Homo sapiens: one gene and its partners. The protein of the gene in region 3 purifies or fractionates together with the protein of the main gene of each other region. This does not show direct contact. Each region holds a gene or a part of one and is shown on either strand. Other genes may lie near its edges. The genes, in order: LGALS9, RNF123, NAA50 and NDRG1.

The links.
Region 1: the proteins of NAA50 (region 3) and LGALS9 purify together in Homo sapiens (co-immunoprecipitation; one large-scale study listed by IntAct). This does not show direct contact.
Region 2: the proteins of NAA50 (region 3) and RNF123 purify together in Homo sapiens (co-immunoprecipitation; one large-scale study listed by IntAct). This does not show direct contact.
Region 4: the proteins of NAA50 (region 3) and NDRG1 fractionate together in Homo sapiens (co-fractionation; one large-scale study listed by BioGRID). This does not show direct contact.

Annotation. Positions count from the first base shown.
Region 1 is NC_000017.11:27,643,056-27,650,916, forward strand, and holds the end of LGALS9 (galectin-9), read left to right. Parts: intron 1-469; coding exon 470-565; intron 566-777; coding exon of another isoform or gene 778-903; exon of another isoform or gene 904-980; intron 981-2,258; coding exon 2,259-2,294; intron 2,295-2,805; coding exon 2,806-2,856; intron 2,857-3,491; coding exon 3,492-3,533; intron 3,534-3,974; coding exon 3,975-4,063; intron 4,064-4,214; coding exon 4,215-4,377; intron 4,378-5,780; coding exon 5,781-5,927; 3' UTR 5,928-6,505; downstream 6,506-7,861. UniProt on the Homo sapiens protein: Binds galactosides. Has high affinity for the Forssman pentasaccharide. Ligand for HAVCR2/TIM3. Binding to HAVCR2 induces T-helper type 1 lymphocyte (Th1) death.
Region 2 is NC_000003.12:49,707,817-49,715,677, reverse strand, and holds part of RNF123 (E3 ubiquitin-protein ligase RNF123), read right to left. Parts: intron 3,200-7,861; coding exon 3,022-3,199; exon of another isoform or gene 2,786-3,021; intron 2,166-2,785; coding exon 2,091-2,165; intron 1,941-2,090; coding exon 1,853-1,940; intron 1,769-1,852; coding exon 1,681-1,768; intron 1,589-1,680; coding exon 1,504-1,588; intron 104-1,503; coding exon 1-103. UniProt on the Homo sapiens protein: Catalytic subunit of the KPC complex that acts as E3 ubiquitin-protein ligase. Promotes the ubiquitination and proteasome-mediated degradation of CDKN1B which is the cyclin-dependent kinase inhibitor at the G0-G1 transition of the cell cycle.
Region 3 is NC_000003.12:113,723,169-113,731,029, reverse strand, and holds part of NAA50 (N-alpha-acetyltransferase 50), read left to right. Parts: intron 1-6,934; coding exon 6,935-7,071; intron 7,072-7,488; coding exon 7,489-7,608; intron 7,609-7,861. UniProt on the Homo sapiens protein: N-alpha-acetyltransferase that acetylates the N-terminus of proteins that retain their initiating methionine. Has a broad substrate specificity: able to acetylate the initiator methionine of most peptides, except for those with a proline in second position.
Region 4 is NC_000008.11:133,250,409-133,258,269, forward strand, and holds part of NDRG1 (protein NDRG1), read right to left. Parts: intron 6,456-7,861; coding exon 6,369-6,455; coding exon of another isoform or gene 6,318-6,368; intron 4,188-6,317; coding exon 4,131-4,187; intron 136-4,130; coding exon 32-135; intron 1-31. UniProt on the Homo sapiens protein: Stress-responsive protein involved in hormone responses, cell growth, and differentiation. Acts as a tumor suppressor in many cell types. Necessary but not sufficient for p53/TP53-mediated caspase activation and apoptosis.

The DNA of each region.
Region 1 (7,861 bases), on a different chromosome or scaffold from region 3:
AATAAAATAAAATAAATAAAACTAAATAAGGTCAGGAGATACCAATACCATGTGAAAAATGGGAAGATTAGGGTATGCTGGGCCCACATTCCCACAGGGCACCAGCAGCTGGGTGGGAGCTGCTGTTACCCTTTTGGCATTCGAGGCTGCTCCCTGAGATCAGCGAAGCACACAGTAGGCCCTCAGCAAATCTGGGCTTCTCGCCCTTTGGTCCTCATCTCTCATTCCCTCCTTCCCTGACTCTCTCCCCTGCGGGTGGTAGGGGAGGGAAGAGCTGGAGGGAGACCGCACCCCTGCACTGCTCACCAGAGCCTGGCTCTTTCCCATCCCATCTTGGCAGGGCCCTAACCCCCTTGCCTCATCGCCCTGCCTGCCTGGTCTCTCCCTCTTGCCCCTGCCTCTGCCTTTCGGCTTCTCCTTGGCTCTATTAATGCTTCTCCTCACTGCCCGGTGCCTTTTGTTTTAACAGAACCCCCGCACAGTCCCTGTTCAGCCTGCCTTCTCCACGGTGCCGTTCTCCCAGCCTGTCTGTTTCCCACCCAGGCCCAGGGGGCGCAGACAAAAAGTGAGTTCAACACAGAGGCCCTGGGTGGCCGAGCAGACAGTAGGAAGGACCGAGGGTCTGAGAGGCTGGCCCCAGCCAGCAGGCCACTCAGGGCCTACAGGCCGCATCTTGCCCACCCAAGAGTTCCCTGTCTCTGTCCGCTGGGCACCCAGAGCTGGGGACCTGGGGGTCACCCTGGATTCTTCACTCCCTCTTCTTTACGTCTCTCCAAGGCACGAACGTGTCTCCCTCCTGAAGCCACCGATGTGGTCCAGGCCTCTGGGATTCCTCACCATGACGACAGGGGTCCAGTTCCCCACCCCCTACACCCAACCACTGCCACAGTGACCTTCTTATAAGCAAATGTGATCACACCCTCTCCCTGCTTAAAAATCTTCACAGCCCCCAGCCCTTCAAATAAAGCCCAAATTCTCCAGCAGGGTATATGAATTCCTCCCCAGTCTGCCCCAATCCACGTCCCTGCCTCACCCCCAACCCACGAAGCTCACGCAGCCTCTGCAGCTCACTCAAGGCCCTCTTGGGCCACCATGCTTTTGCATATGCTGTCCCTGGTCCCGGAAGCACCCTCTGCCAGCCTGCCTCGAGCACATGCCTAATTGCCCTTCCATGCTCTGCCTAAGTGCCGCTCCTCTGGGAGTCCTCCCCGCCTGGAATATTGTTGGACGCTCCCCTGGTGTCCCCACAGAGTCTGTATGTATCTGTGCCATGCCAGTTCACAGCACCCCATTGTAACTGTATTTGCGTGTCTGTCCCCGTTACTCCACCCCCATGTCCCTATGCCCATGAGGCCCCAGAGGGCCAGGACTGTGGCTTGTTCATTTGCACTGTGCCTGGCACTCAGTAGGGACTCAGTGAATGAATGTGGAATGTGGTTCACACAGCCAGGGAGAATGGGATACCAGCCAGGGCAAGAACAGTCTACTGGGTGGGGCAGGATCCAGGACAAGGAGGTGAGCAGCCCTTCCTCCGGCCACTCAAGTAGTGGGGACTGGGAGGAGGGGCGCTTTGTCTACGCAGTCTTCTTATGGCTCATCACCGTACAGACAGGGCACCTGCCTCCTGCCACGCTGACTTCAGGACTGGTCGAGCCCCAGGGAACATTTGCAGGGCAGCCCAACTTTGGCCCTGGCCCTGGCGCTGGCCCTGGCTCTGGGGAGGATAGAAAGTGTGCTGGATACAGTCAGACAGAACTGGCTGCCACTTTGGATTTGATCCCTTCCACCTTGGCAAGCTTGGGCAAGTTGCTTAATCTTTCTGAGCCTCGTTGCCTCACTAGGGACACAGGAGCTGAGGCTGCTTCCCTTGTTGGAAAGCACTGAAGCCCAGGAATCGACCCACAATAGGCCTTCAACAAATACCACTTCTCACCTTATGGGTGAAATATGGCACTGGAAGTAATGCTCTTCGCTGTGGGAGCTACAGAAAGCAATGAGGTCTCTATCAAACCCAGTCTCCTCTCTCTCGAGAGGAACCAGTGGGGATACCCTACCCCCCAACCCCAAAGCCCTGTACACCTGGGGGTAAAAATCTGGGTGCCACGGGCTCAGGAAGGCTTGCTTGGGAGCAAGAGGGAGGTGGGTGTGTCCGGGGAGGCATTTCTGAGCACAAGAGCCTCCCTGGAGTTTTGCCACCATCTCCTCCCATTCTGTGGTGCCCGCGATAACCACCATTCTGACTCTCCTCACCCCTCCAGCCTCCCGGCGTGTGGCCTGCCAACCCGGCTCCCATTGTAAGTCTCTTGCTTTCTTTTTGGATCGTCCTCATTTTGGCTTTTCTGGGCTCATGGAGGAGGCAGGGCCAGGCATTGGGCCTCTCCCATTGGGAGTGGGGAGGGCACAGACCAGACCCTTGACCATCTGCCCGGCCTGGTGAGGTTGGGGGTTGGATGTGGGGGTTGGATGAAACAACCTGAGTTGCCACCCCGTGGGCAGCCACGGAAGACCATGCCCCACATTCACTTCTGTCACCTGCAAAGGGAGGCTAGGCTGAGAGACGTTTCCCCGAGAGGAAAGATGGGCCAGAGCCACCAGCGTCCCCATCTGTCTTCTCCAGGGTTCTAACCTTTGCCCCTCGCTCATCCCCTTGAGAGAAGAGACACCTGGGCCCACCCTCTGTGGGGTCTGTGGGGCCATTGGGCTTGTTACGCCCCCTGGAGGGTGCCTGCCGTGTGGCGCCCTCTGGTGGGAGCTGGTGGTTTTCACACGTGAGAGCCTGGGTGAGACCTGGTTTCTTTCTTCCAGACCCAGACAGTCATCCACACAGTGCAGAGCGCCCCTGGACAGATGTTCTCTGTAAGTCTACAAGTTCTGGTCAGTTCACAGCTGCACAGTGTCCTCCTTCACCAAAAACTAAACTCCCTAGAGCCCTAGAGTCGGGAAGAAAGCGGTTTAGCAAGGAGGATGGGGACACTAGGGGCTGAGTGCTTGGCTCAGGTGACATGTGGCTAAAGCTGTCCTTGGGACAGCAGAGATTCTGGAAGAAGCAGGGTTTATCCAGTGGTGGAAGAGACAAGTCCCCTAGAGACCGGGAGGGAAACTGGTCCATCTGTCACCAAGTGGGGAGTACAGTGGCCCCAGCACCCGGATGTGAGGTTCCTGGCCCTGCATCCTGGGTCCCCAGGATGTCACTATTGATCACAGGCTTAAGCTCTTCTCCTGATGGTGCAAATGAGGCAGGGGGGCTTAGAATTAGTGGGGCTGCCTGCGGAGGGGTTGAGGGGCAGGTGACCGTGGTGTGGTCTGGGAACACGGCAGGAAGTTCCAGGAAGGCTAACATGAAAAGGGAGGTAGACGGGCGAGTCCAAGGGCCAAAGGCTCACGAGGTCAGCCTCACAGTGGAGTCCTCTCTAGAACGCGTGGGTGCGCCTGGGTGAGTGCTCGCGCACCCATGTGCTCTCCCATTGAATTTCCTGGTTTCTTTTCAACAGACTCCCGCCATCCCACCTATGATGTACCCCCACCCCGCCTATGTAAGTGGTTTCTCAGGGAGGGCAGAGGTTCTGTTTGTGGTGGGCAGGCTGGGGGTGAAGGGCCGCTGTGGGGGGATCCACTGGCCTTGAAAAATTAAAAGCAGTCATTTGTTAAGCTGAAGGGCTTCAAAGCATCCCAGCGAATTAGAAGGCTGTGGAGAGGAGCTTTCAACCTTAAAACTGTCGTGTCAATATGAGCACATTGCATGTCCCTCCCTTTTCACCCCACGAAACGAGTCTTTTTGTGTTTGGCCAAAGTTCCTTTCATGACACTAATCTAAGCCCATTAATTTGAGGAGCACTGGAAAGTTTTCCTTTGGCTTTTATGGAACCAAGTAAAGATATCATGGGCTTCTTCTCAGCTGACAGCCCAAATTCATGGGAACTGGTACAATCTTCCCCTTCCGCGTGGTGGCTGACCTGTCCCCCTTCTTCCGACAGCCGATGCCTTTCATCACCACCATTCTGGGAGGGCTGTACCCATCCAAGTCCATCCTCCTGTCAGGCACTGTCCTGCCCAGTGCTCAGAGGTAAGCCAAGGGCTCCAGTGACCTCTGGGAAGAGAGAGCCCTTCAAGGTCAGTCCAGCCATTCCCCTGGCTTCAGGAAGGCTACTGATGATGGGGAGGAAATGGGACTCAGAATTCGGTGGATAAAGGTTCAGGTGGGCTGCCCACCCCAGGTTCCACATCAACCTGTGCTCTGGGAACCACATCGCCTTCCACCTGAACCCCCGTTTTGATGAGAATGCTGTGGTCCGCAACACCCAGATCGACAACTCCTGGGGGTCTGAGGAGCGAAGTCTGCCCCGAAAAATGCCCTTCGTCCGTGGCCAGAGCTTCTCAGTAAGGCACCGCAGTCTGGAGCTTGGAGAGGCTCCCATGGGTGCACAGGGGGAGGGGGTAAAGGAGGTTTGAGGTACCTTGAACAGTATGGGGGCTGATTCCTCTGGGATGAAGGCCCAAAAGAAGAGAAGGTGGCCAACAAATTATTATTATTATTACTGTCCCGCATGAAGGAAGTGCTGGGATCTGCTTTTTCAGATGAGGAAACAAACTCACAAGTGCAGGTTACTTGCTTGTGGTCACACAGTCAGTAAGTGTCAAATCAGACCCAAGAAGGAGGTGTTATTCATTTCTTCATTTACTCAACAACCATTTTCTTGTCGCCTGCTTTGCGCAGGAAGCACCCCACATGCTGGGGGCACAGTCATGAAGCACACAGACAGGGTCCTGCCTCCAGGGAGTTTATAATTTAGGTGGGGAAAGAACAAGGAAAGTAAAGCATGGACAGATTGTCACAGATAACGACAGTGCCACGCACAAAGCAAAACAGAGCGATGAGATAGAGCGAGCCTGGGAGGGGCAGCTAGGGCCAACGTGCAGAGGCACGGGTGTGGCCTGTCCAGGAACAGCAGGCAGGCGTGCTCCACCCTGACTACATATTCAAATCACCCAGAGAGCTTACAAAGGAAATATCAGTGCTGGGACCCCAGCCCAGGCCAATGAGGCAGTCAGCTGGGCATTCGTATTTTAAAAATATGCCTTAAGTGATTATACTCTGCAGTCAGAGTTGAAAATGACTGATGTAGGGCTTTGCAGCCATGGAAAGGAGCTTGGATTTTAACACAGTGAAAAGCCTCAGGAGTGTTTCAAGCCAGGGAGCAACATACTTTGATTTGTAGACAGCTGTGTGACCTCGGACAAGTGACTTAATTATTCTGTGCTTCAGTTTCCTCATCTACAAAATGGAGCTAATAATCATGAATTTCCTAGAGTTGTAAGAATGGAATGAGACAGTATCTGTAGTATGCTTAGGACAGTGCCTGGCAGGTGGCATGTGTGATAGGAGTGTTAGCTATTGCAAAGGGAAGGAGGTTTTAACATTTGTACCCTGACTGCTTCGTGGAGAAGGCATTGGGGTGGAAAAGACAAGTTAGGAGACTGATGCTGCAGGAGCCCAGGCCCAGAGCACTCCTGTGTGCTGGGCCTGAGGGATACAGACGGCACAGGCCAGTGCTCCTGTCCCTGATGGGGTGGGAACAGTATTCTAGACCAGGGAACAGTACAGGGGAAAGAGCACGCACAGCCTGTTTAGTGAAGAGCCGTCGTTCAGTGGGGATAGAGTGCAGGTGAGGGGCTTATTAACAACTGAGGAGGGAGGGAGGGTGGGAGGGAGGGAGAGAGGAGGCTGCAGTGAGGGTGGAGGACTTCCCAAGTGTAGTGCAAACGGCATGATCTCTGCACAGGTGTGGATCTTGTGTGAAGCTCACTGCCTCAAGGTGGCCGTGGATGGTCAGCACCTGTTTGAATACTACCATCGCCTGAGGAACCTGCCCACCATCAACAGACTGGAAGTGGGGGGCGACATCCAGCTGACCCATGTGCAGACATAGGCGGCTTCCTGGCCCTGGGGCCGGGGGCTGGGGTGTGGGGCAGTCTGGGTCCTCTCATCATCCCCACTTCCCAGGCCCAGCCTTTCCAACCCTGCCTGGGATCTGGGCTTTAATGCAGAGGCCATGTCCTTGTCTGGTCCTGCTTCTGGCTACAGCCACCCTGGAACGGAGAAGGCAGCTGACGGGGATTGCCTTCCTCAGCCGCAGCAGCACCTGGGGCTCCAGCTGCTGGAATCCTACCATCCCAGGAGGCAGGCACAGCCAGGGAGAGGGGAGGAGTGGGCAGTGAAGATGAAGCCCCATGCTCAGTCCCCTCCCATCCCCCACGCAGCTCCACCCCAGTCCCAAGCCACCAGCTGTCTGCTCCTGGTGGGAGGTGGCCTCCTCAGCCCCTCCTCTCTGACCTTTAACCTCACTCTCACCTTGCACCGTGCACCAACCCTTCACCCCTCCTGGAAAGCAGGCCTGATGGCTTCCCACTGGCCTCCACCACCTGACCAGAGTGTTCTCTTCAGAGGACTGGCTCCTTTCCCAGTGTCCTTAAAATAAAGAAATGAAAATGCTTGTTGGCACATTCATGTGGGTTGACCATGGCTTCTTTAATTCATTTGGAGACATTTTGGAGTCTGTGGAATCGGGCGGGGGTGCTGCTGAGAGGAGTGGGATGGGAAAGCATGGACTCCCTTTGGGCAGGGGGTCCTGACCTCACACCTCCTCCCAGAGGGTCTCTTGCAAATCCCACGAGGGTGTTGGAGAAAGCAGGCTGGGGCTCTAGCCTTTTGGGCAGGAGTCTCGGACACAGGAAGGGTGGTAATGGGGGACACCAGGAAACAGCCCCATGCCTCCGAGATGGGAGAGGGGCTGGGGCAGAGCCTGTGAGGGCCACAGCAGGGTCAGAGCTGCCTCCTCAGACCTGGCGTCCCAGTGGGAGGAGGTGGCTTGGGGAGGGGGGTCAGGAGAAGCTGATCCGAAGCACCGTCTGGGTGTGTGTTCCATTGTGGGTCTCCCCGGCATTAGGGGTTAGGGCTTGCGTGGGAAAAGTGGCTCAGTGTTCATGTGTGGGGTTCTGCCAGCCACTGGGCCACTGCCCAACAGCCCAGCTCCGCGTCCACGTGATGCCAACACATCCTGCTTGGCTCAGCAAGAATCCAGTTCCTCAGGCCCCAGTGTAGTCCTCGGAGCTGGCAGCACCAGCAGCAACTGGGAGCTTGTTGGAAACGCGGCATCCCGCGCACCGCCCCCCTGCCCCGTGACACACACACATACCTACCTGAGAGATCAGAGCCTTCGTTTTCACAACACCCCAGGTGAGACACACACATTAAAGCTGAGAAGCCGGCTGGGCATGGTGGCTCACGCCTGTAATCCCAGCACTTTGGGAGGCCGAGACAGGCAGATCATCTGAGGTCTGGAGTTTGTGACCAGTCTGGCTAACATGACAAAACCCCGTCTCTACTAAAAATAATAATAATTTAAAAAAAGTAGCCGGGTGTGGTGGCGGGCACCTGTAATCCCAGCTACTCGGGAGGCTGAGGGGGGAGAATCGCTTGAACCCAGGAGGCAGATGTTGCATTGAGCCAATAATGCGCCATTGCACTCCAGCCTGGGTGACAAGAGTGAAATTCCGTCTCAAAATTAAAAACAAAACAAAACAACAACAACAACAAAAACACAAACCTGAGAAGCCCCGGTCCGGGAGCGGACTCCTGGCTGTGTTGCTGAGATGCACGGCTGTCGCGCAGGGCACAGAGCTTTTCTGGAGCCTGAGGTTGACACTACACCTTCTCCTGCCACCTGAGACTCTGCTGCTAGAAGAGGGAGGGGAGAGAGAGGGGCGAAGTCGGCTAGGGCGGCCAGGAGGCAGACACCAAACCCGAGCTGGGAGCCGTGTGTTGCTAGGACCCCAGCGTCCCCTGCTGAGCTCCTTCCTTGGT
Region 2 (7,861 bases), about 64 Mb from region 3:
TTGAGCTGATTGAGGACGCTGTTGAGGAAGCTGGGTGCCACATCAGGACCCTGCTGTAGGAGGTCCGCCATGTGCTGCTGCAGCAGGGTGGAAGGGCAGGGCTCTGCAGGGGGACAGGAGGCGGCATCATCAGGGACTCCACTGCAGTGGCCTCTGCCTGTTTGCCTCTGTCCTCGCCCATTGAGGCTTTGGTATAAGGACAGAAAGATGGCTCCCTAGGAATGCTCAGGTCATGAAAGCAGGGGACAGAGGACAGCTGCCTTGGAGTTAGTTGGGACAGAATCTGTCCCCTCCTTCTACTAGGCAAGCCCCAGGCTGCAGCTGTGTCCAGCCCTGACACCACACCATCCACTCCAGGTCCAGAGCAGCCACACAGCCACAGCCTGACCCTCAGCAAGTTCTGGGTCGCACACCCTTCAGATAGGGTCAGACCTAAACAGGGCGGCTTAGATGCTTCCCCACCGGCACCAAGGCCAGCTCCTCCAAGAGCCTACTCTAAGCCCTGCTGCAAACCTGCTGTCCTCTACTGTCCTCTGCTGCCCTTGGCCTGGCCTTGGCATATGGCCGAGGTGGTGGGCACCAAGTCTGGGCTGGCAGGCAGCAGTAACCGGAGCCCTCAGCTGCAACGGGCCTGGCGCACCTCCCCACCAGCTTGATACAAATCAATAGTTCCCGCAGCAGCAGGACAGGCCTGGCCCCACTGCCGCTCTCCACTTGCAGCTCAGTTCCGCCCTGGACGCAGGACCACGGCAATTGGCAAGGACTTGCTGTGTGACTTAGCAGAAGACACTCAGCCTCTCTGGGGACACCCTTTGGACCAAAACACTGCCCACAAGGGCAGAAACAGACTACATGAGCCAAGAAGAGCCACCATGAAGGGTGAGGACAGTGTGTGGCACACCTGGCACTCTGCAAGGGCCAGGCCTAGGGGAAAGTCCTTGCTGGACCCTGGAGAGAGGGCACAGCCTCTGCTCCCAACTAAATGTCCCTTCCTCCAGGAACTCTCGTGAATACCCTCTGGGGACCTGGCCAACCTCCAATCTGTGCTCCCAGTGGACTCAGGTGTCCAAGGCCTAAGCCAAGGCCAGGGTCTGCCACCAGCAGATAGCAAAAAAGAAGCAGAAGGACATGGTGCTGGGACAAGGCTGGAGGTCAGGGAGCTAGCTTAAAGGGCAAGGGACAGAGTATTCAGTCTGCATGAGCTGTAGCAGGCCAGGAACATGGTGCCGCCTCTCACCATGACCCACATAGAGCATCCAGGCCCAAAGGGCACATGTAGGTAAGACTGTGGGCAAGGCTGGGGAGGGGGAGTCCCATCCCGAGTATCCTTGGGCTGGAAGGAAGCAGGGAAAGTGGAAACCCCAGGGGACACGTAGGGAGTCTGGGACCCAATGGGGGAACCAGAGAGGGGCTGGAAGAAGTGGAGAGTCTGAAAGAACCCATGGGTAGGAGGTAAGCGCCCCCGCCTGCCTTGCCCAGGACTCGCCCAACCCAGATACTCACTCTGGAGGCTGGGCAAATTGGCGTCCTCAAGTTTGGTTTTCAGCAGATGTGGCAGCCGTGTATAGCGGTACCCGAAGCCACAGCCCTGTGGAGGTGGGGGTCAGTGCCCAGGTCAATGGGACAGCGCACCCTCTCCCTCCAGCCAGCCTCAGCCACTTCCCCTCGAGTCAGGCTTACCCTCCAGAGCCGCACCAGGATCCAGTTGGTCTGGGCCCAGGGCCGCTGCTCATAGGGCGCCAGGAGGTTCCTCACCATGGCGATACGCCTGTGAGGGCAAGGAGGGGAGAGACGGGGTGAGGCTGGGCATGGTGCTTGTGGCCAGGGTGTGTGCCCCCCAGGCCCCACTCACTGCTCCTCGGGGATTCGCTCCACAGCCCGCAGGGAGTGTGGGTAGCACACGTAGCTGGCCAGGGCCTGCATCAGTGAGTCTCGGATGTCTGCGGGGACACACCGTGCCTCAGCAGGGGCTTGGCATGAGCCCTGGACCCATACTTCATGCCCACCTGGCCACATTTTTCATAGAAGAAAGCCGACCAGAGGTGCCATCCCATCCCCCTCCCCCTGTACCCTCTGTAGGGGCCCCTCACCAGTGCCCACAATGCGTGCGTCGGCAAAGTGTTTGGCGAGAATGGCAGCCAGGCGGGTCAGGGTCTCTTCATAGCCTGCAAGGGTGGGAAGTGAGACGTGTCGGCTGGGAGTGGGGGCTCCAGAGGCAGGCATGTCAGCAGGGTGGGTGGACTTGGGTAGCAGGCTCTAGAGCTGGCTCCCAAGGCCAGCCTGGACCCAGGGTGGCATCTGGGGACATCGGGCAAAGCATTCATTGGTGGCTGTGCAAGGGCTAAGGCACAGGCTCACTGTGAAGGGATGACAGGCCCTGGCAGGAGCCCTGACCTGGGCTCAAACCCATCTCAGCACACACACCTGATGAGCAGTCAAAGCTCCTTGGGCACTCACAGCTCTGTCTTTGAAGACAAAGCCTGCACTGAGGCCTGTGGCTGGGCAGGGGGCAGGCTAGGGGCCTGACAGCTCACTGCCTGATCCAGACATACACTGCCACGCCCAGCCTGGAATCAGCAGGCTGAGAGGCCCAGGTTCGGATGTGGACCCTAGCAGGGTCCACCCCCTGCTGTGATTTACCAAGACAAACCATTCTGCCCCTGACCAACTGCTACGCTTTGTGACCAGTGCCAGGGAGTCAAGGTGCAAGGCCAGCTGGCTCCTGGACCATGGCAGTTGCTCATAGCACTAGGAAGGAAGTGAAAGCCAAGAGGTCTACACCCACCGTGTTCCATCTTGTCTGTTTTCCTTTGCTAGGGAGCTGTTGGCTCTGTGGCTGCAGGTCCCAGGGCAGGGTGCAGACGTTTGTTTGCTGCAGGGTGAACCACAGAGGAAGCTCCTCCCCTCCCCGCCCCCCACAGAAGTGTGTTGCTGGGCCACAGAGGTCTCAGACCAGGGCTCCTAGGGCTCACACTAGAGACCCCTTTTCTGCTTCTGCCTCAGCCTGAATGGTTCCATCACCTGGGAGCTCCTCCATGCTGTGCACGGGACCAAAGTAATTCTTGAGAGCACTGTAGCTGTTGATGGCCACGCTCAGGTAGAACTCGGGCATGAAGGCAAAGAGAGACCCTGTGCGATCACCGTGCTCAATGGTCCGCAGGCAGACGCGCAGCAGCCAGTAGATGTCCAGCATCTTCTCCTGCAGGAGGCACACGGGGTGCTGCTGGGTTGCGCACCAGTGGGGTCTTGGGGGCATGTCCTGGCCTGGGGATCAGGAAAGGCCTCCCCAGGCCTACGACAGCACAACTGAGACCTGGATTTCAGGAAGCATGAGCAGTAGCTCAAGCAGGGCAATCAAGTCCTCAGCAGGCAAGAGGGACGCACTCAGCCTGGAGGGCGCATTACTGTGACCCAGGCCAGAACTCTGGTCAGCATATTTGTAAGCAAGTTTTTTTTTTTTTTGAGATGGAGTCACCCAGGCTGGAGTGCAGTGACGCCCTCTTGGCTCACTGGAAACCTCCGCCTCCCAAGTTCAAGGGATTGTCTTGCCTCAGCCTCCCGAGTAGCTGGGACTACAGGTATGTGATACCGCGCTCGGCTAATTTTTGTATTTTTAGTAGAGATGGGGTTTCGCCATGTTGGCCAGGCTGGTCTTGAACTCCTGACCTCAGGTGATCTGCCTGCCTCAGCCTGTAAGCAAGTTTTAGGCAAGAGGGTGCTGTGACTGGAAGTCTGTGTGGAAAAGTGGAGTACAAGGTGTGTGAAGGGCCCAAGAGAGCTGGCGATGGTAAGCAGACAGGCAGAAATTTGATCTGGAGTGCAAAGGAGAAGGTGGTGGGAAAGCAGGGGGCAGTGTGACTGGTGGAACAGAGGTCACAGGAAACAGACAAAACCTGCTGAGGGCCCTGCTCCCCACAATGTGGTTTCCACAAAGTCTATGTCAGGGTCTCACAAAGGAGCCCAGGCAAGAATGAGGCCTCAGGCCCCAGCCCAGACCCACAGCACCCGTGTGTCTTGGAGTGCGGTCACAGCACCTGGGCTTCACACCAGCTCTCTGATGTGCCCTAAAGCCCAAGGAACTGAGGAGAAGATGTAAGCAAGAGGTTAGGGGAGGGCCTAGGCGCAAACCTAGGCAGCGATGATCCTGCTGCTACAGAAGGCCAGCGAAGACTGTGTCTGGTGAGGGGCTGGCAATGGCCCCATCAGAGCTAAGGTATCAATGCAAAGGAGATGGAAATGTGCCGGCCGGATTGAGATGGGGGCAGACAGAGACCCTGGTGAGACTATTTCAGAGATGGGGAAGAGCCTGTGCTGGAGGGAGATGAAGGGGAAGATGTAGCAGCTAAGACAGAGAAAGAAGGAGAGAGCATAACTTTTGGGCACATATAGCGTCAAGGCTGGAATGCAGTGGCACAATCACAGCTCACTGTAACCTGGAACTCCTGGGCTCATGTGATCCTCCTACAGGTATGTGATACCACGCCCTGCTAATTTTTGTATTTTTAGGAGAGATGGGGTTTCGCCATGTTGGCCAGGCTGGTCTTGAACTCCTGACCTCAGAGTAGCTGGGACTACAGGTATGTGTCACCATGCCCCGCTAATTAAATTTTGTTTTTTTTGTAGAGATGGGTTGCCCAGGCTGGTCATGAACTCTTGGCTTCAAGTGATCCTCCCGCTTCAGCCTCCCAAAGTGCTGGTTTACAGGAGTGAATCTCTCCATTAATAATGGGATTAGAAAGACACAGGTGAGTTAGTGCTGAAGATGCAGAGAATGAAGGCAGTTCAACATAATAAAGACCATATATGAAAAGCCTCCATCTAACATCACACTCAGTGGTAACAGACTATAATCCCTCCCTCCCTCAGACCAAGAACAAGACAAGTGTGCCACTTTCTCTACTTCTGCTCAGCACAGTCCTGGAAATCCCAGCCAGAGCAACTAAGCATGAAAAAGAAAGGAAACCACACTGGAAAGGATAAAGTAAAATTATCTCTGTTCACAGACATGATTTTATAAGTAGAAAATCCTAAAGATACACACACACACACAAAACCCCAACTAGGATTAATAAATAAATTCAGCAAAATTATAGGATATGGCCAGGCGCGGTTGCTGAAGCCTGTAATCCCAGCACTTTGGGAGGCCGAGGCAGGCGGATCACCTAAGGTCAGGAGTTTGAGACCAGCCTGACCAACAAGGTGAAACCCCATCTCTACTAAAAATACAAAAATTAGCCGGGCGTGGTGGCGTATGCCTATAGTCCCAGCTACTCAGGAGGCCGAGGTGGAAGAATCGCTTGAACCTGGGAGGCAGAGGTTGCAGTGAGCCAAAATCTTGCCACTGCACTCCAGCCTGTGCCACAGAGCGAGACTCCCTCTCAAAACAAAACAAACAAACCAACAAACAAAAGATATGCAAATGGCCAATAAGTGCTTGTAAAGGTACTATTTGTCATAATGTCACTAATCATTAGCAAAATGCAGAACCACAATAAGGTACCATATCCTACCCATTAGGATTTACTATTAAAAAAGTAGAAATTGCCGGGTGTGGTGGCTCATGCCTATAATCCCCGCACTTTGGGAGGCCGAGGCAGGAGGATTCCTTGAACCCAGGAGTTTGACAACTGGGCAACATAGTGAGACCCTGCGTCTACCAAGAAAAAAAAAGGGCAGAAAATAAGAAGTGTCGGTAAGGATATGTATGGAGAAATTGGAACCCTCATGCACTACTGGTGAGAATGTAACAGGCACAGCCACTGTAGAAATGATATGGTAGTTTCCAAAAAATTAAACAACAGAATTGGCCGGGCGCGGTGGCTCATGCCTGCAATCCCAGCACTTTGGGAAGCCGAGGCAGGCGGATCACCTGAGGTCAGCAGTTCAAGACCAGCCTGACCAACACGGTGAAACCCCATCTGTACAAAAAATACAAAAATTGCAGGGCGCGATGGCTCACGCCTGTAACCCCAGCACTTTGGGAGGCCGAGGCGGGCGAATCACCTGAGGTCGGGAGTTCAAGACCAGCCTGATCAATATGAAGAAACCCCATCTCTACTAAAAAAAAATACAAAATTAGGCCAGGCGCGGTGGCTCACGCCTGTAATCCCAGCACTTTGGGAGGCCGAGGCGGGTGGATCACGAGGTCAGGAGATCGAGACCATCCTGGCTAACACGGTGAAACCCTGTCTCTACTAAAAATACAAAAAATTAGCCGGGCGTGGTGGCAGGCGCCTGTAGTCCCAGCTACTCGGGAGGCTGAGGCAGGAGAATGGTGTGAACCCGGGAGGCGGAGCTTGCAGTGAGCTGAGATAGCGCCATTGCACTCCGGCCTGGGTGAAAGAGTGAGACTCTGTCTCAAAAAAAAAAAAATACAAAATTAGCTGGGCGTGGTGGCACATGCCTGTAATCCCAGCTACTCAGGAGGCTGAGGCAGGAGAATTGCTTGAACCTGGGAGGCAGAGGCTGCCGTGAGCCGAGATCGCGCCATTGCACTCCAGCCTGGGCAAGAAGAGCAAAACTCCACCTCAAAAAAAGAAAAAAAAAATCACAAAAATTAGCCGAGCATGGTGGTGCGCACCTGTAGTCCCAGCTACTCGGGAGGCTGAGGCAGGAGAACACTTGAACCCAGGATGTGAGCCGAGATCGCACCATTGCACTCCAGCCTGGGTGACAGAGTGAGACTCCATCTCAAAAAAAATAAAAAATTAAAATTAAAAATAAAATAAAAAACAGAATTACCATATGATACAGTAATTCCACTTCTGGGTATATAACCAAAAGAATTGAAATTAGGGTCTCAAAGAGATCTTTGCAAACCCATGTTCATTACAGCATTATTCACAGTAGCCCAAAGTAGAAGCAACCCGAGTGTCCATCAGCAAAGGACTGGATATATGAAATGTGGTGTCCGTACAACAGAATATTATTCAGCCTGGAAAATGAAGAAATTCTGACACATGCTATAACACGAATGAACCTTGAGGACATTATGCTAAAGCCATACACAAAAGAACAAATAGTGTATGATTCTTCCTAGATGAGGTGCTTAGTATAGTCAAATTCAGAGACAGAAAGTAGGATGGTGGTTGCCAGGGGCAACCTGAGCTAGCCTCAGAACAGGGCCATGGTGGTCCCCTCATGACATGGAAGTAAGGCCCAGCTGGGGGTCTGTGAGCCGCTGGCCAGAGCACTCAGGGACCTGATGCCAGAACCACTGCTCCCCCAGCTGCCAGACCCAGGGATCTGCTGACAGGTGGGGATGGGTGGGAGCTGTCAGGGAAGCTGGGGAAGGGAGGACAGGAGGTTTTGTTCAACAGGCACGGAGTATCAGTTTTGCAAGATGAAATGAGTGTGGAGATTGGCTGCACGACAATGTGAATAGACTTAACACTTAAAAATGGCTATGATGGGTGACCGGGCACAGTGGCGCACGCCTGTAACCCCAGCACTTTGGGAGGCCGAGGTGGCAGGATCACATGAGGCCAGGAGTTTGAGACCAGCCACGCCAACAAAGTGAAACCCTGTCTCTACCAAAAAATACAAAAAGTAGCTGGGCGCGGTAGCACATCTATAATCCAGGAGAACTGCTTGAACCCGGGAGACAGAGGTTGCAGTGAGCCAAGATCATGCCATTGCAGTCCAGCCTGGGCAACAGAGTGAGACTCTGTCTCAAAAAAAACACAAAACAAAACAAAACAAAAAAAACACAGCTAGGATGGTACATTTTATGTCACACATATTTTAGCATAACTAAAAAAAGGCAGAGAGATGAGAGGGCAAGGGTCTTGAGAAGACAGTGTGGGAGAGGGCAGCCAAACTTCTGAGGGAGGTGGGCAGGCAGGAAATCTCAGGGCAGAAG
Region 3 (7,861 bases):
ATAAATTTTAAAAGTTAACAATGCCAAATGCTGATGAAGATTCAGAACAGTAGAACTCCTATACACTTAAGACCTAGCATTCCCACTCCTAGGTATTTACTAAGAGAAATAAGAACTTATGTTCATACCAAAACTTATATGTAAATGTTTATAGGAATTTTACTTGCAGTTACCTAAAATTGTAAACAACTGCTCTTCAACAAGAGGATAAATTTACAGTACATCCACATAATGGAATACCATTCAGCATTAACAAGGAATGAGCTATTGATATGCACAACACCGGGGTGAGTCTCAGACATTATGCTAAATGAAAGAAACCAAACAAGCAGCTATGTATTTTGTGATTCCATTTATGTGACATTCTTGAAAAGGCAAAACTTTGGGGAACAGAAAAGAGATTTGTGGCTGCTTGGGAGTTGAACTTTAAAGGGTCATGTGGGAGGTTTTGGGAGTAATTAAATTGTATATTTTGGTAATGGTTACATGATTATATGTATTTGTAAAAACTCAGAACTATACACCAAAAAGATGAATTTAATTTTATGTAAGCTTTAAAAAGTTTTTTTTTTTCTTTTTTTTTTCCGAAAGCCAAGGAATCAATCAAAACTGATGCCCATAAAAGGCAGGAAAATGAAGAACAGTTAATACTTGGTACAAATAGAAAATTGCAAGCTGATGGACTTGAATCAACTAAATCAGTAATTCAATAATTACATTAAATCTTTTTTTGAACAGTCTCACTCTGTCACTCAGGCTGGAGTGCAGTGGTGGCGATCTCGGCTCACTGCAACCTCTGCCCTTGGGTTCAAGCAATTCTCCTGCCTCAGCCTCTCAAGTAGCTGGGACTAAAGGCACGCGCCACCACACCTGGCTAATTTTTTGTATTTTTAGTAGAGACAGGGTTTCACCATGTTGGCCAGGCCAGTGTTGAACTCCTGGCTTCAAGTGATCCACCCGAGTCAGCCTTCCAAAGTGCTGGGATTGCAGGTGTGAGCCACTGTGCCTGGCCCATTAAATCTTAATGGACCAGATACTCCAATTGTCAGATTAAAAGAATAAGATCCAACTATATGCTATTTACACACACTTTAAATATAAGGACACAAGGAAAAGTAAAAAGAAAAAGGTAAAAGATAGAACATGAAACTTTGATTTGAAGGAAGCTGTAAAGCCAGGCCTGGTGGCTCATCCCTGTAATCCCAGCACTTTGGGAGGCTGAGGCAGGTGGATTGCTTGAGTTCAGGAGTTCAAGACCAGCCTGAGCAACATGGTGAAATCCTGTCTCTACCAAAAATACAAAAACAAAACAAAACAAAAATAGCTGAAAGTGGTGGCATGCATTTGAGGTCTCAGCTACTTGGAAGGCTGAGGCAGGAGGATCCCCTGAGCCCGTAGGCGGAGCTTGCAGCAAGCCAAGACTGTGCTACTGCACTCTAGCCTGGGCAACAGAGTTGAGACCCTCATCTCAAAAAAAAAAAAAGAAAGAAAGAAAACTGCGTATTAATGAACAAAGTAGACTTTAAAACAAGGAGTATTGCCAGCAAAAAGGATATTTCAAAATGATAAAAGCGTCAAATTATCAACAGTAGTCCTAAATATTTGTGCACTTTCTAATTTGAAAATACCTGAAGCTTTCTTTTATTGATTGAATGAAACAGCAGAAAGGAAGAAACACTTCCAAACTTTCTTTGAGGCCAAGATAACCCTGATAAGAAAACATATCAAGAATATTACAAGGGCTGGGTGCAGTGGCTCACGCCTATAATCCCAACACTTTGGGAGGCCAGGGTGGGCGAGCCTATCACTTGAGGCCATAATTTCAAGACCAGCCTGGCCAACATGGTGAAACCCCATCTCTACTAAAAATACAAAAATTAGTTAGGAGTGGTGGCACATGCTTGTAATGACAGCTGTTTAGGAGGCTGAGGCAGGAGGATTGCTTGAACCCAGGATGCGGAGGTTGCAATAAGCTGAGATTGCACCGCTACACTCCAGCCTGAGCAACAGAGGGAGACTCCGTCTCAAAAAAAAAAAAAAAGAAAAGGAAAAAAGTGTATCAAGAGTAAGCCTTTTTGAGATACCATGTGAACAAAGACTTGGAGTTAACATATACTGCAGCCAAGGATGGAGAGGCCATCAATTGACAGGAAAAACTGCAAGCAAAGCAGATTTTGGAACAAAGATTTGAAATTGTTTGCAGTATGTTCACTTTGAAGTGTCTGCTGGAGATTGCTTGGATCTAGGAATGTAGAGTTCAGGAGTGAACTATAGGCTAGAGACAGAAATTTGGAAATTGGCAGCATTAAAGCCACACAACTACAAGATTGAATGAGATCACCAAGAGAATAATTATAGAGAAGATAACCAAATGCGTCCATATACGAGGCCGTCATAAAATTGGTTCTTTTTCAGCTTCCGCATTTATACACAAGCATACTTGATGTTTTAGCCATATCAAACTGACTGATTTTCGGACTACATCACTGCTGTTTTGTTCATGTTTTATTAGACTGCATCTCTTGCCCTTCCACAGGATAAGCTAGTCGTTCTTCAAAATGTTTCCCATTGTCACCTTCATTCTAGTATTATTTTTGTACTATATGTACATACACTGTTAGTAGCACATTGTATATACCTGTCTTTCCTACCAGATGTAAACACCTTTGCATTCCAGATGCATAACACATAGATACTCAAATATTTATTGAAATATAATTGATTTATGCTTTAGGCAACTCTATTATGTTCATAAGAACTTTAGAAAAATTTAGATTGACAGAATTTTTTAAATCTCCATTAGGTTAGTTTTTTAATAGAGAATTTGGACTTTTAACTTAATTTTTTATAGGTTATTCTAACTAAAACCTTTTTGGTTGTTTACATTCAAGTAATGTTATTTTCTTGACATGTCTACATATCCCTTATGCTTATGCCTTTTTTTTTTTTTAACTCCGTGTTCCTTGCTAACTTATATTTACAAGTTGATTATAGTACTTTGATATATTTAGAAAATCCATGTCTTAAAATAATTTGGAGCTAAGTGATCAGGATTACAGAAGTATTCCATTTCAGTCAGACATATCATGTTAATGAGAGTTAAACTATATTTGAAGCTCAGTTTTGCTGACAAGGTTACATTAAGTGAACATTTTGAAATTTTTCTAGCATATTTGTTTCTTGCAAAAATCAAATTAATTTCTCAAAAACAGCTTAATTTTTCCAACAGCTACCAAACAATACTTAAATCTCAAATTTGTTTAAAGCGTGTATATACATATATATAACGCGCATAGAAAAATATTGGAAGACTATCAGCAAACTTATTTCTGGCCATATTATTGCAGGATATTTTCCCTTTCTACGTCATTTCTATGGTGTGCTTTAAAAAAAAAAAAGGCATGTATTTTTTTAATTAGTTAGGGGAAGATTAAGCTGCCTATTTCCTAATGGTTCAATATTGTTTTCTCTATTTAGGCTTTATCTGGCCACCCTAATGGAAACTTTTTTTAGTAGTTAACTTTTATTAGACTCATTGTAGCACAGTGCACTATAACCACTTTTTCTTCTTGTATGAAGTCAAGAAATACCTGGTATTATTCTTTGAAAACTGTAAGTATGCTTGAAGCCTAGTTACTACCTACAAATGATTCCTAAAGTTTTAAAAACCTCAAGTTCTTTCATTTATACTTTAGAAGCTTGACTTTGTAGGTTCTTAAGTTACTATTATTGTTGATACTTCAACTTCATAATGTAATTTTAAATCACTTTTTAAATACTAAGACTTTTTTTTAAATGAGATGCTCTAAATTAATACAAACTGTATATAAAAAAATTACTACACCCAACTTGTGGCACTATGGTAAGTTAAACAGGAGACAGTGTAGGTAAGATGTGATCCCTGTCAGCTACTGCATTTTTAAAGGATCCTATATTTTGGCCAGGCACAGTGGCTCACGCCTGTAGGCCCAGCACTTTGGTAGGCCAAGGTGGGCGGATCACTTGAGCTCAGGAACTGTAGACCAGCCTGGGCAACATGGTGAAACCCTGTCTCTACAAAAAATTCAAAAATCAGCTGGGCGTGGTGGCATGTGCCTTCCTCAGCTACTCGTTAGGCTGAGGTGGGAAGATCACTTGAGCCTGAGAAGCGGAGGCTGCTGTGACCTGTAATTATGCCTGGGCAACAGAGCAACCCTGTCTCAAAAAAAGAAAAATAAAGGATTCTATAGTTTACAGGATAACAGTATCCACAGATTTTTCTTTCTTTCTTTCTTTTTTTTTTTTTTGAGGCGGAGTCTTGCTCTCTCGCCCAGGCTGGAGTACAGTGGTGCGATCTTGGCTCACTGCAACCTCTGCCTCCTGGGTTCCAGTGATTCTTCTGCCTCAGCCTCCCGGGTAGCTGTGACTACAGGCACGTGCCACCACACCGGGCTAATTTTTGTATTTTTAGTAGAGACAGAGTTTCACCATATTGGCCAGGCTGGTCTCAAACTCTTGACCTTATGATCTGCCCACCTTGGCCTCCCAATTTTTTTTTTTTTTTATGTGAATGGTAGATAGTGGGGAAAGTGAGCCCAGTAGATTTTAGTCAGAAAAGTGTTATGAAGAGGGGGAGTTCTGTGAATGAGATGTAATCTACTTAAAGAAAACATGAATTTCATACAGGGAATTCATTATAGTTGTCAAATACTTGGGATGAGAAAAGACTATACTTAAGTGACTAGAAGTTGGAAGAGACTATAACAAGAAAATGTCTATTTTTTTATTTTTACTTTTTTAAACTTCCTATGGTGCTGAGGGGTTTTTTAAATATATAAATCTCTTACCCTTTTACTAACATGTTTGTTTATTTAATCTGTGTGGTTGCTAAGAAACTATGTTCAGATTTTAGGAAGACATACAAGACATGAAAAGATCATTGGTTGCAACAAATAATACAGATTAGTGGTATAAAAAATAATCAAGGCAGGAAGGATAAAGTTCCAAATGAGCTAAGCCTTTCAAAACTGCTAAGTATGACAGAAACGATGCTTTATGCTGTCTTTTGTGTTCTTCATACAGACTACTTAAATAGGGGGTAAAAGTCTCTTGTTTTTGCCTCTAACTCCTTACCAAGTAGAATGTTCTCCAAACTGGGCATTATAGAGTAATACATCTTAGAGAACTTTGTACTATAAGATAAAATATTACATCATATTCCTCTCCAGATAAATCAAATTTAGAAATTTCTTTTTTTATCTGTAATTATTGCTGTTTTTTGTTTTGTTTTTGAGACAGTCTGTCACCCAGGCTGGAATGCAATGGTACACAATCATAGCTTACTGCAGCCTCGACCTTCCAGGCTCAAGCAGTCCTCTCACTTCAGCCTTCTAAGTAGCTGGGACCATAGGTGCACGCCACCACACCTGGTTAAGTTTTTTTAAAAAAATTTCTTACAAAGTTTTGCTATATGCCCAGGTTGGTCTTGAACTCCAGGGCTCAAAGGATCCTCTCACCCCGGTCTCCCAAAGTGCTGGGATTACAGGCCTTCATGCCCAGCTGTTTTTTTTTGTTTCTGTTTTTGTTTTTTTGCATTTTAATCTAAATTTTAACATTTCAAAATACAGTTTTTAAAATTACAATTTCTACTACAAATTAAAATCCTTTCAAGCATGTTTTTGTATATGTTAACAAAAGTCCGTTGTTAAATATAGTTGAAATGTGCTTTTTCTCTACAAAACACAATATGCTACAACATCTTTTTGGGCAAATAATACGGATGGAGCAAAAAAATTGTAGAATGCTGTCAGGTTTGCCTTATCACATTTGATCCACCTTTAACAGTATTGAAGTTCACTTCAGCTATTAAAAATTCTTTGTTTACAGCTCTGCAGGCAGAATACCTTTGATACTTTGTTAGAAATTGGAACTGAAAATTTTTCGCTTTAATCTTTTCCATGGACCCAATTGTTTTGATTACAAGTGGTTTCTTAGGAATGCTCCTTTTATTAGTCCTTTCTCATGCTGCTAATAAAGACATACCCGAGACTGGGTAATTTATAAAGGAAAGAGGTTTAATTGACTCACAGTTGCGCAGGGATAGGGAGGTCTCAGGAAACCTATAAACATGGTGGAAGGGGAAGCAAACACATCATTCTTCACATGGTGGCAGGAAGGAGAAATGAGAGCGAAGTGAAGGAAAGCCTCCTTATAAAACCATCAGATCTTGTGAGAACTCACTATCACGAGAACAGCATGAGGGCAACCGCCCCCATGATTCGCCGGGTCCCTCTCACAACATGGGAATTATGGGAACTACAAGATGAAATTTGGATGGGGACACAGCCAAACCATATCACTCCTGTTGCTTTCTTAATGGATAGTTTTCATCCTGGGGTGATTTTCAAGATGGTGGATTCCTTTGTTTCGTTTCCAGCAACTCTGGTTCTGAAAATGGGGTATGTGTATCCAGGAATGTGAATTTTGCATATCACCTCTGTGACTCTGATGTAGGTAGTTCATAGACCACGGTTTTCATGAATAGAATGTGCATGGTATTGCATACCTCCATTGTTTTCTTAGAATAAATTACTAGAAGTAATAAGATACTTGGGCAAAGGAACTGTAATTTTACCAGAAATAGGTGTATCTAAATTTTTCTGAACTATGAACTACAAGGAAAATTTTGACACTTGCAGAATGTTATTCTGGCCTTTGTAGTAGTCGTTGTGTACCATATTTGTCCCTGAATGTATGTAATTATATGAAAGCTATGAGTAGAATTTGTATTGAATGACTGTCAAAATTTGCTTATAAATGATAATTTGCTTATAAATCAACTCTGAAAGAGTTGGATTTATCAATCATGTAAAAAAGACTTGGTACCCCTTTCATATGTTCATATTAACAAATGGGGCTAATTATGTTTTATTGAGTACATTTTGATTTGTTCCAGTAGCCGGATCGAGCTGGGAGATGTGACACCACACAATATTAAACAGTTGAAAAGATTGAATCAGGTCATCTTTCCAGTCAGCTACAATGACAAGTTCTACAAGGATGTGCTGGAGGTTGGCGAGCTAGCAAAACTTGGTATAATATAGTTTTTTTTTTGTCCTCCCTTCTTTTCTTTCTTTTTGTTCTTGAACCCTAGTTTTTTATAGAGCAGAAGAAGTTAACTAATTTAGTTTGTTTATTTTATAAGTGAGGAAATGGGAGTGGTCTAGGTTGTGAGAAAAATCTCAGAGAAATCAGTTGAATAAAACAGTTGAATTTTAAAAAGAAATGCTTAGTGTTCTTAGTGTATACCTGTGTGTTTTCACTTTAAGCTATACTCTAGAGGAGGCTTAAACTTCCTAAGATGGCATAAGAGCTTTGAGATCATTGATATTCATGAAATAGTTGATGAAATTTAATGTTGATAGGAACAGTGTAGTCCTTTAAAAGGGAAAAAGATTAAATGTGTTATTCTGTCTGTTCAACATTATATCTTTATGTTTTCCTTGGCAGCCTATTTCAATGATATTGCTGTAGGTGCAGTATGCTGTAGGGTGGATCATTCACAGAATCAGAAGAGACTTTACATCATGACACTAGGATGTCTGGCACCTTACCGAAGGCTAGGAATAGGTAAAAAATTGTGGTTTTTTTACTTCTTCAGAGAAGCATAAACATATTATTTGTTAATGTGTCTGACCTAGTAAGTTAATTTGGGTCTTTTTAAGGAATACTGAGAAAGGGTTACTGAATTATGTAAAATATGGTGAAAAATAACTAGTGTTTATTAACATAATTCTATTGGAAGCCCTACATAGATTTGCTGTTTACGTCCCCTTCTGCTTTTTCTGTTTTTCTTCTACCCGGAAGTGCTTGTTTAAAAAGG
Region 4 (7,861 bases), on a different chromosome or scaffold from region 3:
GCAATGATGTGGCTGAACTACATCCCAATACCTGTTGTAGGCATTGATGAACAGGTGCAGGTTGCCGGGGTTCATGTCATTCACAATGTGCTGGCGGTAGGTGTGGACCACTTCCACGTTACTCTGCATTTCTTCCTGCATTTAGAGAGGTGAGAAGATGGTCCTCATCGCACTGTGGCCCTGAGCTGGTCACTACTCTCTCCATTCTCCAGGTTATTTGGAGACAAAGTAAAGATAATAATGCCTAATCCACAAGACAGCGACGGACCTAAAAAAAAAACCTTTGGGAAAGCAACACGCCCAACCAGGTGCAGACAGGGGTTTCACTATCCGCTGGGAGCAGAAAAGACCCCCATCCTGGAAAGGCCACACCCCACCCTTCCAAACTCATTACTTTGGGAGTTTCAATTTGAAGTCAGACATCCTGGATCTAGAGCTTAGCTTCATCACTGTCCCTTTCGTAGGCAAATCTTTCAACCTCTCTGAGCCTCAGATCTCTTAAAAAAAAAAAAAAAAAAAAGGGAAGAGAGAGAATGTTGCCTACTTCACTAGGTTGTAGGACTTAATGGAGGTTGTGTTCTCACCTCTACTAACAGTAAAAATTGGAGGCAAATGTTAGTAATTGTTTTCCAATGGGAAGAGCTGAAAAGAAGTTTTTCATGCTTGAAAAGCAAAATCAACTCATGCCACAGGAAGTTACTGAAAAGAAGGGCAATTGCAACTCCCACCACGGCCAACCAGAGCCTTGGGGAAGTCGGCCTCAGCCTCCCCGTCTCTGGGTGCTTTTTGAATGTTATTTGCGACAAACAACTTGTTTGCTCTGTTTCTCATTTGTACGAGGGCAGACACTGTAGGTTTCACACAAGGGTCTGATATGACCAGTGGCAACCAGATGAGAAGTTGGAGTTGGGGGTCAAAGAAAGCCGGTGTCAAGCTTGAGCTGCATCAAACAGTCCAGGATCATTTAGGCAGCAAGGAGGTCAACTGGCTACTAAGAGCAAACTCTGGAAAAAATAGTCAGGAATCACGCTGGGATTTCAGATCAAAACCAACTATAGCGATCTGGGGGTACCCTCAGACACCATGGCCGGACCAACCAGTCTCCAAATAACTTGGGGTATAATCAGATCAGATGCTCAACGCTATGTCTGACATCCCTCCTCCAGTGAAACAGAGACAGTGGCTGTGAATTTTTCCCAATTCCTATCAGTTTCAGATTACACACTCAGGACAGGGAAAATGTGTCACACGCTGTGGAATGAATCGTAAAAGGGGAAAGAGGACTCTAGTGGGCTAAACTGTGGCCCTCAAAAGATATGTCCATGTCAAATCTCTTGAACTTGGGAATGCAAACTTGCTGGGAAAAAGGGTTTTTGCAGGTGTAATTAATTAAGGATCTTGAGATGAGATAATCCTGGATTACATGAGCCGGGATGAAATCCAATGGAAAGTATCCTTAAAAGAGGAAGGAGAGGGAGAAATAAAACAGACACAGAGGAGAAGACCATGTGAAGACAGAGGCAGAGAGTGGTGTGAGCAGCCACTAGCCAAGGAATGCCGACAGCGACCTGGAGCAGTAAGAAGCAAGGACGAATTTCCCCTGGAGCCTGTGGCGGAGGGGCGGCCCTGCCAGCGCTTGACATCGGAGTTCTAGACTCAGAGCTGTGAGAGAATACACTTTTGTTTTCCTTTTTCTCTGTTTTTGAGACAGAGTCTCCCTCTGTCTCACCCAGGCTGCAGTGCATGGCGCGATCTCGGCTCACTGCAGCCTCTGCCTCCCAGGTTCAAGTGATTCTCCTGTCTCAGCCTCCCGAGTAGCTGGGATTACAGGCGCGTGCCACCACATCCGGTTAATTTTGTATTTTCAGTAGAGACGGGGTTTCACCATGTTGGCCAGGCTCGTCTCGAACTCCTGACCTCAGGTGATCCACTCGCCTAAGCCTCCCAAAGTGCTGGGATTATAGGTGTGAGCCACCCTGCTCATCCCACTTTCGCTGTTCTAAGCCATCCTGTTTGTGGTAATTTGTTACAGAAGCCACAGGAAACCAACACAACAGGCAAACCTAGCAGTTGTACTCGCCAACTCCAGAGTGGAGCCTCTGTTCCCCTGGTACACTCGCCAACTCCAGAGTGGGGTCTCTGTTCCCCTGGTACACTCGCCAACTCCGGAGTGGGGCCTCTGTTTCCCTCGTACACTCGCCAACTCCGGAGTGGGGCCTCTGTTTCCCTCGTACACTCGCCAACTCCAGAGTGGGGCCTCTGTTCCCCTGGTACACTTGCCAACTCCAGAGTGGGGCCTCTATTCCCCTCGTACACTCGCCAGCTCCAGAGTGGGGCCTCTGTTTCCCTCGTACACTCACCAGCTCCAGAGTGGAGGCTCTATTCCCCTCGTACACTCGCCAACTCCAGAGTGGGGACTCTATTCCCCTCGTACACTCGCCAACTCCAGAGTGGGGCCTCTATTGCCCTCGTACACTCGTCAACTCCAGAGTGGGGCCTCTATTCCCCTGGTACACTCGTCAACTCCAGAGTGGGGCGTCTGTTCCCCTGGTGTACTCGCCAGCTCCAGAGTGGAGGCTGTGTCCCCAGGACTCATGGGAGTGTCAGATGGTCACACATGTTAGCTCAGAAGCAGACAGTGGTATGTAAGCAAAGCAGGTCACTGCAATTTCAGGCAACCAAGGGGTTTTCCAGACCCTGGGCTTGCAACCAAGCCCATGGCATACCCTTCCCGAGGGTAGCTGGCCCCAGCTAGAGACACAAAACCAGTGTCTGGGGCCAGGCAGGCTGGGCTGATAAGATGACTGCTCACTTCTAGCATGCTGTGAGGGGCTTGGCTCAATCCCCTTTAGTGGGGTAACTCTGCAGAAGAGCAGCTCATCTCAGAGCCAGGCAGCAGCACAGGCAGCCGCCATCCTGCTGTGGTGACCAGAATGAAGCCAGATTCATAGGTTCTAATACCGGCCCCACCTCTCCCTGGTTGAGACCCTATGCAAGTCACTCAACCTCTCTGGTCTGTTTCCTCTTCCATAAACTGGGAATGAGAACAGAATTTATCACACAGGTCACAGAGCACCTGGGTGGAATCCTATTCCTATAGTTAACACTTGTGAAGCTCTTAGGACTGAGCCCAGCCCAGCACACAGCTAACTCCACGGACATGTTTGCTACTGACCAGATTTATAACAGCCCAGAACTGGGAACAACTCAAAGGTCTTATCAACAGGTGAATGGAAAAACAAACTGTTGCACATACATAAAATGGAATACTTCTCAGCACTAAAAAGGAATAAACTTTTTTTTAAGAGACAGGGTCTCTCTGTCACCTAGGCGGAATACAGTGGGCTATCCCAGCTCACTGCTCACTGTAGCCTCAAACTCCTGGGCTCAAGCAATCCTCCTGCCTCAGCCTCCCAAGTAGCTAGGACTATAGGCATGCAGAACCACCATGCCTGGCCAATTTTTAATTTTTCTGTAGAGACAAGGTGTCACTATGTTGCCCAGGCTGGTCTTGAACTCCTGGGCTCAAGCAATCCTCCTGCCATGGCCTCCCAAAGTGCTGGGATTATAGGAATGAGCACTGCACCCCGACTAGGAATAAACTATTGATCCACTCATTAACATGGACAAATCTCAAAATGGTTATGCTGAGGGAAAGAAGCCAGACCAAAAAAAAAAAAAAAAGAGTACCTACTATATAATGCCATTTATATAAAATTCTAGGAATTGCAAAGCAATCTATAGAGGCCAATGCTGATCAGAAGTTGCCTGAGGAGGAGGGAGAGGAGGACTATCAAGGGGCACAAGGAAACTCTTGGAGTGATGGAGACGTTATTCTCCTGATTACAGGGATGGTTTTACAAATGTATATGCATGTCAATTGTACACTTTAAATATGTGCAGTTAATTGTACTTCAATCAGCTGTTTTTAAAAGACACATAAAAAAGAGAGAGAATGAATGACTTGTTGCTTATGAATGAATAATGTCACATTATCTCATGAGCACCAGCTCGGTGGCCCCCAGTTGATTGTGTCTTGTTCTCTCCACCCCCACATGGGGCCCTGTGCTGAGCACCACACAATGCCTTGCTCAGCAGGAACAACAGATTTGCCAGACCACGCAACTCACCTTCCCAAAAAGGTGGGACACCACCATGTCCGGCAGAGCTTGGGTCCATCCTGAGATCTGGAAAGGAGTAAAGTGGGTGGATGAGAAACCAGGAGCTAACAGTAGTTAACAAGGTCAGCAAAACCCCACTTCCCTGGGTGCAGGGTGGCATTGCTGGACTCCCCCCTACATGCAGGCCTCAAGGACATCCCCCTTGATAGAAACTCAGTTCCTGTCTCCAGTTCCCTCCTGGACCTGATCCCCCAAATGCAGGGCCTGGGACTATATCCAGTTCCTTATTTTCAGAGGCCCATGCACAAGATGCACAGCAAATAAGTGCTGAATAAAGACCCAGCTACTGCTAGCTTACCCTGCTCCAAACATTCACCAAGTCCTCAGCAAAGAGGGCCATCCATTCACCTCTTCTAAAAACACACTGAGCTCCCCAGTCTATACCCCAAGATATGCTTGGCTCCCAACTATCCCTCCTCTCTCATCTCCAAGCCAGTTTCCCCTTTCTAAGTATACTGATATTACCAAAGACACTGACAATCTTCTTTTCCTACCTCTCCCCAGTGACTAGGTTTGCAGCAGGAGCTCTATAAGTCCTAGTATACAGCAGAAGCTCCATAAATGTGTGCTGACCTAAGCATTAGGCAAAAATGAGTAGGAGAGAAGCTCTAGACCTAAGGGTCTTTGGCTGGCCCTTGCCTGCCACAGCCTAGCTGTGTGGCACTGGGCAGTCTGCATACCTCTGGGTCTCAGACTTCTAATCTGGAACTGGGAGTGCCAGGAACTTCAAGGCCACAAGGTCAAGGGAAGGACTGCAAGAAGTAACTGCACACATCACAGTATCTAATACCAATGCCTGGTAATCGAAAGGCTGGAGTTGAAAAAGAAGGGAATAGTACAGCTATTAAAGCTGTACTGAAGGGAATAGTACAGCTATTAAAGACAATCCTCAGGCTTCACATTAGCCAGTGGTCGACATCCCCAGACCTTCGAGTCTCACTCAGGACAGCTATCATGAAGCCCAGCGGGTTGACTGGAATGTCACTTCCTTTGCTGGAAAATCAAATAAAAAACAGGGAGTGTGTTCCACTCCAGAACGTCATACAGGCTGGACGGAAGGGCTCCTGCATTCTGGAGGAATGTTCAAAGAACAAATGCAAAATCACAGTGGCTGGTACAGGGCAGGGGATGGGGCAAGAGGCAGGGCCCCTTCAAACCATCGGTCCCTGGCAGCCACCCAAAATTGGGCAAAAATGCACTTGCAGAATGAGAAGCTGCGATCACCTCAGCTTGAAAGACTCTGTCCTATTTCAACTGGAATGACCTCCCCCTCTCCTTGGCCAACACTGAGGCCTTTACAGGGAAAAAAACAAAAACAAAAACACCACAATGATAATTTTTAAAAGATAAACAAGGAACCTTAGGACACCAGCCAGGACAGAGCTTCCCAAGACAGCACAGGTCCCTTCTCCTCCAGGCAGCCTACCCTGCTTGCCAGGCCTGCCTGTCTCCCACCCTGGACAGGAGCCCCAGGGGCACGGGTGGTCAGGTCCACGAACCACAAAGTCAAAGCAAGCTGCATCCAGTCCCCGTTCTACTGCCTAGCTTTATGTGACCCTGGACAATCCCCTTAGCCACACCGAGTCCTTACCTCTGAAACGGTGATAAAAATTCTCACCTCCTAGAGTTACTATGAAGATTAACTGAGATCATGCACACACAGCAACGTAGAATGAAACTAGCACATGGTAAACTCTCAATCTACGTTAGCTAATTATTATCGTAAAATTCTGTGGCACAGTCCGTACTAAATACATATTTATTTTTCTTTAATAATATGTGAATGGATTCCTAAGATTCATTCCTAGAGGCTTTTGTCTTGTTCATCTCAAGAAGTCTTGTTCTTCAAGATGCTCAGCATCTTGACCAAAGCCTGGCACAAGTTATGTACCCAGCTAATACTCATTAATCCAAGCAATGCTTCTCCAAGCTGCCTCAGGGACCTGTGTCCCAGTGCTTTCCCTGGCTTAGACAGCTTGGTGGTATTTAAGTCTTCTGAATGGCAAACGGCTGAGGTCATGTGTACTGTTCTAAGTAAAGCAGAGGGAACTGGAGTGGGCAGTAGAGGGTAGTGGAGGAGTGGGTAAAGAGAGAGCTCGTAGCTCCAGGGATCCCCCAGGCAGAGGCTGTGTGCACCTGTCCCTCTTCTTGCAGGGATCCCGCCGGCCTGACAGGCCCCCACCTCACCTTGGAGGCGGCCCAGTCCATCCAGCCTTCCGCACAAGGGTTCACGTTGATAAGGACAAGGCCCTCCACCATCTCAGGGTTGTTTAGCTGCAATTCAAGACACAAAGTGAGACAGACATCCCAGCAATCTGAAACACTAGGAACTTTCCAAGGCAAACCAAAGCTTGAGAGAAGTACCCAGAAAAAGGCAGTGTGGGCAGCAGAGCAGGCTGCTGCTCCCCGGCCCCACCCCATGCAAAACTGAGGTTCCAGCACAGCAGACACGGTATCGGGTCCTAGAGAGAGTGGGAAGGAGAAAGAGGAAGTGCAGGAGAAGTAGGAAGCCCGCTGCTTTGCAGGCCTGCCTTGGGCAAGTCACTTCAACCCACGGAGGCTCAGCTTCTCCAGCTATCAAATGGGTGTAACACACCATCGACCTCATCAATCAAACAAGGCGCACAGCACAAATGCTCTCTAGTTGTGGCAGTAACAACTGTATTACTTACTTCCAGGATAAACACATGCATACACACACACACACACACACACACACACACACACAGAGAGAGAGACAGAGTTATGCATCGCTGAATAACAGGGATACTTTCTGAGAAAATTCATCATTAGGAGATTTTGTCATTGTGTGAAGATCTCAGAGTATACTTACACACACCTAGACAGTATAGTCTACAACTCACCAAGGCTGTATAGAACAGCCCTTTGCTCCTAGGTTTGCTGTACAAACCTGTACAGCATATGACGCTACCCAATACTGCAGGGAATTGCAACACAATGCTAAGTATTGATGTATCTAAGCAAATCTAAACATAAAAATGGTACAGTAAAAATGAACCATTATAATCTTATGGAACCACTGTCAAATGTGCAGTCTGTCATTGACCAAAATGTCATTATGTGATGCAGATACATACAGATATAGATATGTACACCTGGGGTACAGTTGAGACCATTTTTAATTTGCTGAGAGCCTATATGGCCAGACCATTTTGTATTCATGTCAGCATTCCTTTCTTTTTTTTGTAAGATGGATGTTGTAGAATCATGTCAGTATTCCCAACCTCCAGCAAAGCCCAGCAAATAATAGGTAGTCAAAATACCAATGGATGTACAAAATGAGTATTGTTGCATTCTTACACAATTGCTCGGTGAGGATACAAAGGAACAGTGGCTCTTGACCTGAGCCCAGAGAAATAACAATGACAACTGTCATGAAAACTTCCCGTGTCTGATTCTAGTTTAGAATCAGTTATGACCCAGGAGTGCCCTGACTACAAAAACCTGTACAGCTGTTACAAAGCAGTGTCATAGCAGAGTACTCAGTGAGTGAGGAGCGTCCTCACTAGATGGCTAAGCGGACAAAGCCCATGACAAAGGAATGTGTCCAGTATCATCCTTGAGTGGAGGAAGAGAAAAGGCTGTGAGTATATATATATACGAGTACCCATGCACCACACACACACACACACACAACTGTGGAGAATACGGGTCATTTC